Linked DNA regions of Homo sapiens: region 2 is linked to region 1. The links come from fine-mapping of genetic effects on gene expression. Tissue or cell type: whole blood. Region 1 holds a variant in brackets; the other region holds the start of a gene. All regions are shown on one strand. Distances are between the middles of the regions.

The links. PIP is the estimated chance that this variant, and not a neighbour inherited with it, causes the effect.
Region 2: it holds the start of RPS26, and the variant in region 1 is fine-mapped to the expression of RPS26 in whole blood (INTERVAL, PIP above 0.99).

The regions. Positions count from the first base shown.
Region 1 is chr12:55,969,525-55,975,152 of GRCh38, forward strand. CDK2 (cyclin dependent kinase 2) reads left to right here. Exons shown (of 7, transcript NM_001798.5): 5 at 1-52; 6 at 1,520-1,723; 7 at 1,997-3,265. The coding sequence ends at 2,101. RAB5B (RAB5B, member RAS oncogene family) reads left to right here and starts at 4,554. Exons shown (of 6, transcript NM_002868.4): 1 at 4,554-4,615. RefSeq lists an enhancer at 4,298-4,447. The variant C/A (reference allele first, on the strand shown) is at 2,391.
Region 2 is chr12:56,038,991-56,044,325 of GRCh38, forward strand. It overlaps RPS26 (ribosomal protein S26), which reads left to right and starts at 2,928. Exons shown (of 4, transcript NM_001029.5): 1 at 2,928-3,179; 2 at 3,435-3,612; 3 at 4,373-4,503; 4 at 5,129-5,335. The coding sequence starts at 3,177. The coding sequence ends at 5,164. RefSeq lists enhancers at 2,649-3,438, 2,887-3,216, 3,357-3,616 and a silencer at 2,677-2,736.

The DNA.
Region 1 (5,628 bases):
TTATTCCACAGCTGTGGACATCTGGAGCCTGGGCTGCATCTTTGCTGAGATGGTATGGAGGCTTGCCCAAGTTCCACCCAGCCCCCTCCCTCTCCTCCCCACATCCAAGAACAACAGAACTGCTTCTTGGCCCAGACCTATGGCCCTTCTATCACAGGGTTCTCTCTCTAAAGTAGCACCAAGGGGAATGGTGGGAAAGGATGCAACTGTTGCCCTGATATCAACCACAGTGTTAGGATATCCTCAAACAGCCTTAGTACCTGGTATACATCTCTTATCCCTGAAATAAGTTAAAGCATTTCTGCAGCTGTTTTAGCTGTAGTCTGCATATATTTGGGAGAATGATTCCATTTAGTGCCTCTTTTATTTCAGGCCTTCATTTCAAGGCTTGTAGACCTTGTTGTATGGTGCCAGCAATGTAGTGAAGACAACTGTGGTCACTTTACCCACACCTTTCATTTAAACTGCAGATTTAGGCAGGGTGCAGTGGCTCACACCTATAATACCAGCACTTTGGGAGGCTGAGGTAGGTGGATCACCTGAGGTCAGGAGTTTGAGACCAGCCTGGCCAACATGTTAAAACCCTGTCTCTACTAAAAATACAAAAATTAGCCAGGTGTGGCTACTTGGGATTACACACCTGTAATCCCAGCTACTTGGGAGGCCAAGGCAGGAGAATCGGTTGAACCCGGGAGATGGAGGTTGCAGTGACCAAGATTGCACCACTGCACTCCAGCCTGGGCGACAGAATGAGATTCCATCTCAAAAAAAAAAAAAAAAAAAAAAAAAAAAAGATTTAGATCATGTTCCCCTTCAACCTCTGGCTTTTCAGACTGAAGGATCCTTGAAGCCTGGCTTTATGTAGAAGCTCCCATCTCCTTTAATATAACAGTACAGTGGTGCAGTAGGCTGTCTTCAAATCAGCAATATGTTTTATTGTCTTTTATCTTGGTTGTAACCAAGAGCTTAAAGACCATTAGCCTATACATATGTAATGTGCATTTATCCCCCCAGTGCATTACCTTACAATTGTCCGTATTCCTCTCTCAATTCATCAAAAAATATTTGTTAAGCACCTAGTGGGTACCCAGCACCATGCTAGGTGCTGTGGGGAACACAGAAGAAATGGAAGACAGAGTCTCTGCCCGCTGTGCTCGTATCTAGAAGTGGCTGCATCACAAGGTTGGGGGATGACCGCAGTGTCTACCCCCTACCCCGTGAGTGGCTTGGGATACCTTTGCTACATGTCAGTGGCACCCCAGACATTCACCCCCTCCCAGACCCACCCAGCCTTGGGGATCTGCAAAGCCATGGTTGGGGGAAGGAAGGAGGGGGCGAGGAGACAGATGAAGGAACTTCATTGTCTCAGGTTCTGTGTGACTGACCCCATGAAAGGCCCTGGGGAGGGAGTCATGGGGCCCTGCTGACCTTTTACTGTCTGTGGGAACTCCTTTGTATAGAGGAGAGTTTTGACTGACGTCAACGTGGGTCTTGGTATTTCCTCTTTCCCCATTTTCAGGTGACTCGCCGGGCCCTATTCCCTGGAGATTCTGAGATTGACCAGCTCTTCCGGATCTTTCGGACTCTGGGGACCCCAGATGAGGTGGTGTGGCCAGGAGTTACTTCTATGCCTGATTACAAGCCAAGTTTCCCCAAGTGGGCCCGGCAAGATTTTAGTAAAGTTGTACCTCCCCTGGATGAAGATGGACGGAGCTTGTTATCGGTGAGAGTGGGCACCTGTTTTCCCTCATTCATTTCTCCCAGGGAAGGGCTTTTCCAGGATGAAGGAAGGATGAGACCCTGAAATCTGGGCCTCAGTGTTTCATTTCCCTGGTTCCTGCTCTCCCTGTTGGCACACTGATTCAGCTATGGGAGGATGGAAGTGAGAATTCTGCCTTGGGTAGAAGGAGTTCTGGTTTCCTGATTTCTGGGAACACCTGCTGCCCATTTAGTCCACTATCACATCATTGAAGTCAACATGCATCTCTCCCTCTAGCAAATGCTGCACTACGACCCTAACAAGCGGATTTCGGCCAAGGCAGCCCTGGCTCACCCTTTCTTCCAGGATGTGACCAAGCCAGTACCCCATCTTCGACTCTGATAGCCTTCTTGAAGCCCCCAGCCCTAATCTCACCCTCTCCTCCAGTGTGGGCTTGACCAGGCTTGGCCTTGGGCTATTTGGACTCAGGTGGGCCCTCTGAACTTGCCTTAAACACTCACCTTCTAGTCTTGGCCAGCCAACTCTGGGAATACAGGGGTGAAAGGGGGGAACCAGTGAAAATGAAAGGAAGTTTCAGTATTAGATGCACTTAAGTTAGCCTCCACCACCCTTTCCCCCTTCTCTTAGTTATTGCTGAAGAGGGTTGGTATAAAAATAATTTTAAAAAAGC[C/A]TTCCTACACGTTAGATTTGCCGTACCAATCTCTGAATGCCCCATAATTATTATTTCCAGTGTTTGGGATGACCAGGATCCCAAGCCTCCTGCTGCCACAATGTTTATAAAGGCCAAATGATAGCGGGGGCTAAGTTGGTGCTTTTGAGAACCAAGTAAAACAAAACCACTGGGAGGAGTCTATTTTAAAGAATTCGGTTGAAAAAATAGATCCAATCAGTTTATACCCTAGTTAGTGTTTTGCCTCACCTAATAGGCTGGGAGACTGAAGACTCAGCCCGGGTGGGGCTGCAGAAAAATGATTGGCCCCAGTCCCCTTGTTTGTCCCTTCTACAGGCATGAGGAATCTGGGAGGCCCTGAGACAGGGATTGTGCTTCATTCCAATCTATTGCTTCACCATGGCCTTATGAGGCAGGTGAGAGATGTTTGAATTTTTCTCTTCCTTTTAGTATTCTTAGTTGTTCAGTTGCCAAGGATCCCTGATCCCATTTTCCTCTGACGTCCACCTCCTACCCCATAGGAGTTAGAAGTTAGGGTTTAGGCATCATTTTGAGAATGCTGACACTTTTTCAGGGCTGTGATTGAGTGAGGGCATGGGTAAAAATATTTCTTTAAAAGAAGGATGAACAATTATATTTATATTTCAGGTTATATCCAATAGTAGAGTTGGCTTTTTTTTTTTTTTTTTGGTCATAGTGGGTGGATTTGTTGCCATGTGCACCTTGGGGTTTTGTAATGACAGTGCTAAAAAAAAAAAGCATTTTTTTTTTATGATTTGTCTCTGTCACCCTTGTCCTTGAGTGCTCTTGCTATTAACGTTATTTGTAATTTAGTTTGTAGCTCATTAAAAAAATGTGCCTAGTTTTATAGTTCATCTCTTTCCTCCTCTTATTTACTGAAAGAATGGTGGGAGACAGAATATGAATGTGTGTATGTGATCATTGATTTCAGACCCCTTTTCCTAATCTCTCTGTGCATGGCTGCCCACCCCACCCCATTTTGGCTAGTGCTGACGGTGAACAAAGTGGTTATTATCATCCCTATTTATGGCTGGGGAAACTGAAGCCTATATACTTCCTACTTCACTTTCTCCACACACCAGCAAACCTCCTTTCCCCCAGCCAACATACCACACACACACCACACCACACACACATCACATACACACACCACACACACATCATATACACACATATACCACACACACCACGTATACATATACCAAATACACACACACCACATACACACCATATATGCACACACACCCCATACATACACACACCCATGCACATACATAGCGGCAGGAAGAGGGCTCCCGGGGAATTTGCCTTTCGACACTGCATTTCCCAGTAAGCCCGCCGTTTTTCCTTTCTGTTTCATATCACAGACAGAAAAGTTTTCCAAAGATTCTTTTATTTACATTTACATACGATTCTGAAAAAGCGTCTCCAAGCTACCACTTCTTGTAGTTGCCATTGTCTCATTCCACCAAAAAACATCTCAGACCGCCCGCGGCCACCCCAAATACGCCTGTCCACTGAAGCCTCACTAAAAGGAGGAAGCGCTGATGTCAGGGTTACTTAAATTCCCAGGCTCCGGATCCCTAGAAGAGGTATTTCCCTTTACGCCCGCGAATTTGTCATAGAAGGCAGGGCACTAGAGCCAGCCCCAGCCAAGTCCAGGGGGAGGGGCGAAGGTCAGTAGCGGCCTTCCTAAGGCTTCCTTCAACCCCTCCTTGCCTGCCAGTCAAGTACCGTATTTTCGCAGTACTGGTTAAAGTTTCACTTTGACCCGCCTCCATCACTCACCTGATTAGATGTTTATGAGTCAAAAGGCGGGGTCATGGGGTGTCGAGATTTTATTGGTGGATACATACGCCTGTCGGCAGTGTACCGCCCCCTGTCTTCAGGAGCTTGCTCTTTAATGGCTCCTTACCTCGTCCATCTTCGAGGTTTCTCCCTCGCTATTGGCTTGTGGCCCCGCCTGTCGCGTCCCTTGCTCGTACTTGTTGGTGACAGCGCCCAAAGAGACTCGCCTTTCTCCAGAGGATTGGTGGATGAGTGCACATATAGCCCACCCTCGAAGGTAGGCGGGTAATCGAGCTATTGGCTGGAGCCCCGCCCCAGGGCGAGGAGGAGAAGGAGGGGCAGGAGGGTTTGGTTGAGCTGCAGCTGTTTGTCTGTTCGACACAGGCTTGGGGCCGACGGGGGAGACGGAGCCCCAGGTACCGAGCTGATGGAGCCCAAAGGGCAGGGGCGGAAGCGCCCGGGAGATGAGAGCAGCCTGGCCTGAGAGCGGAGGCGGGTCTGGTCCTAAGCGAGGGGTTAGAGTGGCCCACCGGAGAGGGGAGAAGGGGGCCGGGCCCCGGCAGGCCTAATGGGGGTCGCTGAGGAGGGGACTGGGCGGCCTGGGACCCCGAAGTTGGTGAGTCGGGAAGGCGGCTGGGCTGTGGCGGCGGCCAGGCCGAGGGCCGGGGGCTGGAGGCCTGGAGCTTGAGTGAGGGCAGGGGCAGGCCTCATTAAGCAGCGCTGAAGAGGGAGGAGCTGGGGAAAGGAACAGGGCAGCGGGTGAGGTAAGCCCATTTGCCGGGAGGTGAGGAGGGTCAGACCTGTCGCCCGAGCCCCGGGGGTGACTGGGGCTGGGTCCCTGCAGAGAGGTTCATTGGAAGGGCCTGAGAAGGGTTCTTAGTTGGGTAAGAAGCGTTCTTTTCAGGGAAAGTGCCTATTGTAAAAAGAACTGAGGGTGCTATGGTGTTGAGCTGAGAGAGATTTGGGTTCAGTGAGGGAGAACTGGGGAAAATGAAGAAGGCTGTATTAATCTAGAAGACTAAGGTAGTTGAAGTAATGGAAGCAGGGCCTGGTATCAGTTATGGGAACTTCTGGGAATGCTGAAGGGTGGGCTGGGGGCTCTGGGTCTTGGGAGTACACACTCTTTTGTTCCCTTTAGTGTTTAGATGTGGTAATTTGAAGCTTTTTAAAACTCCCAGGGTAGGGATGAAGATCAAAGTAATTTTTTTTTTTCCATGACTGTTGGCTGCTCCAAACTCAGCCCCTACACTTTCTGTTGGCCTCATAGCTGGTCTATACTGCAGTCTGTTTCTTAACTTACTGTTTCATGTCCTATGAAAGAGCTAAGAAGTTGGATTGGGGGCATGTTTTGTCCACTTCTTTCCCACTTAATAATGTGGTCTATAGCAAATACCATGTCTCCTAGAACTGAGAATCTATTTCATATCTA
Region 2 (5,335 bases), 69 kb after region 1:
AGTAGGAACATAAATTTGTTTCTGTCTTAAATAGTAACTATTTTCTGTTCTCTTCACTCTGAACTTTTTTATGTTCTCTTCCATCTACCTCATTGCTATTCCATATAGTAATGTCTGCCTTCTGTTTTCCACAAGATTACAGTGAAGTGAAAATTAGAGACACTCCTATCTAGAGTCTATTATTTTCCATGTCCCACTGAAACTGGCAAATTCAAAGTCAAAACAGACAGGAAAGCTGGAAGTGGTGGAGGACACCTGTCCTCCCAGCTACTTGGGAGGATCACTTGAGCCTAGGAGTTTGAGAACAGCCTCAGCAACACAGGGCAACACCATCTCTACAAGAAATTTTAAAATTAGCTAGGCATGGTGGTGCATGCCTGTAGTCCCAGCTACTCGGAAAGCTGAGACGGCAGGATCACTTGAGCCCAGGAGGTCAAGCCTGCACTGAACTGTGATCATGCCACTGCAGCCTCCAGACCCATCTTAAAAAAGAAAAAAAAGCGCTGGGCACAGTGGCTCATGCCTGTAATCCTGGCACTCTGGGAGGCTGAGGCAGGCGGATCACGAGGTCAGGAGATCAAGACCATGTGGCCAACATGGTGAAACTCCGTCTCTACTAAAATACAAAAAATTAGCCGGGCATGGTGGTACGTGCCTGTAGTGCCAGCTACTTGGGAGGCTGAGGCAGAAGAATCGCTTGAACCCAGGAGGCGGAGGTTGCAGTGAGCCAAGATCGCACCACTGCACTCCAGCCTAGGCAACAGAGCAAGACTCCATCTGAAAAAAAAAAAAAAAAGTCTGGGCACAGTGGCTCACGCCTGTAATCCTAGCACTTTGGGAGGCCGAGTCGGGTGGATATCCTGAGCTCAGGAGTTCGAGACCAGCCTGGGCAACATGGCGAAACCCTATCTCTACTAAAAATACAAAAATTAGCTGGGGCCGGGTGCAGTGGCTCACACCTATAATCCCAGCACTTTGGGAGGCTGAGGTGGATGGATCACGAGGTCAAGAGATCGGGACTGTCCCAGCCAACATGGTGAAACCCTGTCTCTACTAAAAATACAAAAATTAGCTGGGCATGGTGGCGCCCACCTGTAGTCCCACCTACTCGGGAGGCTGAGGCAGAAGAATCGCTTGAACCCGGGAGGCAGAGGTTGCTGTGAGCTGAGATGGCACCACTGCACTCCAGCCTGGGTGACAGAGCAAGAGTCTGTCTCAAAAATAAAAATAAAAAAAGAAAGGAAAAGAAAAAAGAAAGTAAGAAAACAGATTTTAGCCCCAAGAAGTGGGTTAAAGGTTAAAAGAAACCATGATGGGTTGCTGGAGGGAAGGTGAATCTGGTGTGTTCAAACTCTAGAGTGAGTCATAAATGAACAATGGTTTCCATCTGTACCATCCTGGGTCTGAATGCTAGGAGGTCCCCTTGCCACCCTAGTGTCTTCAACTTTGGAGACAACTGGGTGGTTGGCTGTGGACAGCCATTCCTGCCAGGCTGAAGCTTGCTTGCTTTTTTTTTTTTTTTTTTTGAGACAGAGTTTCGCTCTATTGCCCAGACTGTAGCACAGTAGCCCAATCTCAGCTCACTGCAACTTCTGCCTCCCGGGTGCAAGCAATTCTCCTGTCTCAGTCTCCCGAGTAGCTGGGATTACAGGTGTGCGCCACCAGGCCTAATTTTTATATTTTTAGTAGAGGTGGGGTGTCACTATGTTGACTAGGCTGGTCTTGAACTCCTGACCTCAGGTGATCCGCCTGCCTTGGCCTCCCAAAGTGTTGGGATTACAGGCGTGAGCCACTGCACCCAGCCTAAGGCTTAAGTCTTTCCGATGGCTCTTCAGAGGTAAATGGAGCTTACACATAATCTTTCAATTAGGGGTCAGATTCACTAATGAGTGGTGAAATAATTTTCGTGGTTTTTGATCAGCATTTATTAAAATAGAGAACAGAAAGATTAAGTAAAAATAAAGAATAGAACATACCAGCACACCTATGACAAGGGTAAGTATCGTTTCATAAAGCTTGTGTTTCAGTTTTGCATGTGCATGTAATCGTGTTTGTGTGTGTACTGGGTACCAATGTAAAATGTATTCGTGCTATGAATCTGGGTGAAAAACGTTTAAGTCATTAGTCCAGGCTATTCCTCCATCCATTTGTTAGGTGACATACAGCATAGTACAGCGGAGCCAGAATACCTACTGCACGTCAGTTCTTCAATCTTTTTTTTTAATTGATTTATTTATTTTTGAGACAGAGTTTCGATCTTTTTACCCAGGCTAGAGTGCAGTGGCGCGATCTCGGCTCACTGGAAACTCCGCCTCCCAGGTTCAAGATTCTCCTGTCTTAGCCTCCTGAGTACCTGGGATTACAGGCGCCCACCACCAGGCCGGGCTAAATTCTTCAATCTTTAAAGTGAGGATAATAATAGTAGCTACCTATAGGCTTGCTCAAAGTTAAATGAGTTAATATTTATAAAGACGCTTACCACAGGGCCAGGCACTGTGCCAGAGATAAAAAGATGAATGAGAAATAGCCCCAGCCTCAATGCACTTCATTGTGGGATTTTCTCCATATTGGAAGGAGGGATTCACAAAATGCTTGTTTCCTCTCAGGCCTTCCTCTTCGTAATCCTACACCTACCTAGTAGAAGGACTGTCAGAGAAATGAGCCCAGGGCGTCCCCCGGTGGCGCAGCGCCGCCTTCGGTCTAAGCACTTGGGGCAGGGGGGAAGGGGGGGAGGGGGGAGCCTCTTGGCTTCGCACTACAATTCCCACCAAGCATCTGTCCCTCTCTGGCCTCTAATAACGAGTGCGCCTTGTGGTCCAGCGTCTGGCAACTTTCACGCCTAGCGTCGCGTATACCGGAAAACTGCATCGTCCAGAATTGCTTCCGAGTCGGCGCGGCGCAAGGCTTGCTGGGAGACACATAACCTCGATTTTCTTCCGCCATCCGGCTAAATAGTCCCATGTGCACTTTGTTCCATGGATAAATAAACACTAGGAACGCATTTCCACCCTAGATTTCAGCAGAAATGCTGAATGTAAAGGAATATTTGAGTAAAGTGAGTTGCCGTTCTTGAAGCCCGTCTCCTAAGGATTCTCCCGGTGTCCGCGTAGGGATCTCATGCTATATAGGAGGGCCCTGCCAGGCACCGTCTCCTCTCTCCGGTCCGTGCCTCCAAGATGGTGAGTCTTCTTGCGTGGTGAGGGTGGGGGTTCGGGTGCAGACTCTGGGATTGTGGGGAAGTGAGAGCCTGGAGCACGGCTGAGGGGTGGACCGAGTGTACATTTCATTTGCTCTGGGGGTCGGCGGGATTTGCGGAGAAACAGGAGATCCGAGCGGCGCCTTCCTGGAGGCTGCCGGTGCGGCTTGTGGCCGGAAAGGGACTGAGGCTGGGTGAGTTGCGCCGTTTTCCTAACAGTTTTCCCATCCTGTCGCAGACAAAGAAAAGAAGGAACAATGGTCGTGCCAAAAAGGGCCGCGGCCACGTGCAGCCTATTCGCTGCACTAACTGTGCCCGATGCGTGCCCAAGGACAAGGCCATTAAGAAATTCGTCATTCGAAACATAGTGGAGGCCGCAGCAGTCAGGGACATTTCTGAAGCGAGCGTCTTCGATGGTAAGTGGGTCACCGGCGCGAACTGTGTGAGGATCCCAGTATCTTAAAGCCTTCGCCCAACTTCGCCCTTTTGGAGGCTCTGTTCTTTGGAGCCTCTCAGGCAATTTCCACGTATTTAAGGTTGTTACTGGTAGAAGAGAATTCTCTTGTTTGCCGTTTTGATTCTTTTCTGGGCAGAGGGTGACTTTGTGATAGAGTGCACAGCCTTTACTCTGAGGTAAAGGTTTGCCTGTTTCGGTTATGAGATTGCAAAAACTAGAAACTTGGTAAATTTGACAATTCTTGTGCTATTGATTATTTGAATATTTGTGAAAATATACAGGTGAGGAAGAATGTCTTCAACGTTTCGAGAATGGAGGCCGTCTAGTTTGGTGTGCAAGGATGATGTTTGGAGCAATAAGAACGTCGCTTTGTTTTTTTCCTTTTATAGAAAGAGCAAGGTTCAGGGTAGGCATTAGGGCGGGTGTAGGTGTAGAAGGAACTGGATTATTGGTTTATTGCATTTAGAATGTCAGTCTGGTCCTTGCGGTGTCAAGATGAACTCACGTGGGATGTTAATTCACTTGTAAAACTGAGGGTTATACATATGTGCTCAGGTATTGGGCTGAACAGGTGCTTTGGGGGTGCTTTTATGTGCCCGACAGGCATTTAAATAGGTTTAGTTTTAATTGACGTAAACATGTAAGGTGCTCTTCATTCATGTAACAAAAAAGCAAGGTAGGTATATAATACCAGTATAACTCTATTTTCTATTCCTTAGCCTATGTGCTTCCCAAGCTGTATGTGAAGCTACATTACTGTGTGAGTTGTGCAATTCACAGCAAAGTAGTCAGGAATCGATCTCGTGAAGCCCGCAAGGACCGAACACCCCCACCCCGATTTAGACCTGCGGTGAGTATTTTAAAAGGAGAATGGAAGCCAGGGGAGTGATGGTTAAAATTTCATCCTGGAGGGTCAGGGTGTCCTATACCTGTAACCTCAACACTTTGGGAGGCTGGGACAAGAAGATTGCTAGAAACCAGCAGTTCAAGACCCCATCTCTTCAAAAAATATTGAGAAGGAAGCCAAGCATGATAGTGTGAACCTATAGTCTGGCTGCTCGAGAGGCTGAGGCAGGAGGATCACTTGAGCCCAGGAGTTTGAGGTTGCAGTGAGCTATGATTATACCACTTGCGCTCCAGCCAGGGCAAAAGTGAGACCTTGTCTCTTAAAAAAAAAAAAAAGTTGCTTCCTCCTGTGGTGCAGGGGGTATCAAATTAAGGTCTGTGCCTCAGGTTAAGCTGTAAGGCAGGTGAGACCCACACCTGAACATGCTTAGAGACACTGCAAAGCAGTGTTAGAATCAGAATTGGTTTTTAGGATGCAGAGTAGTGTTCTCCCTCCACCTCTATCAGCTTCCCATGCATTTGTAGCCTGAATACATCAGTTTGTGAGAGGATGGTGGTCAAGTTCTTTGGGGGAAGGGAGTCTTGGATCCATGGGTTTTAATTTACTCTTTTGTTTCTTTGTCTTTCAGGGTGCTGCCCCACGTCCCCCACCAAAGCCCATGTAAGGAGCTGAGTTCTTAAAGACTGAAGACAGGCTATTCTCTGGAGAAAAATAAAATGGAAATTGTACTTAATATTGCATGTTAAGTGTATCTGTGCCAGATAAGGTGGGGATTTTGTGTGTTAGACCAAGTGTGAAGTGACACACATTATTTTCATGGGGAAGAAAGCTTATT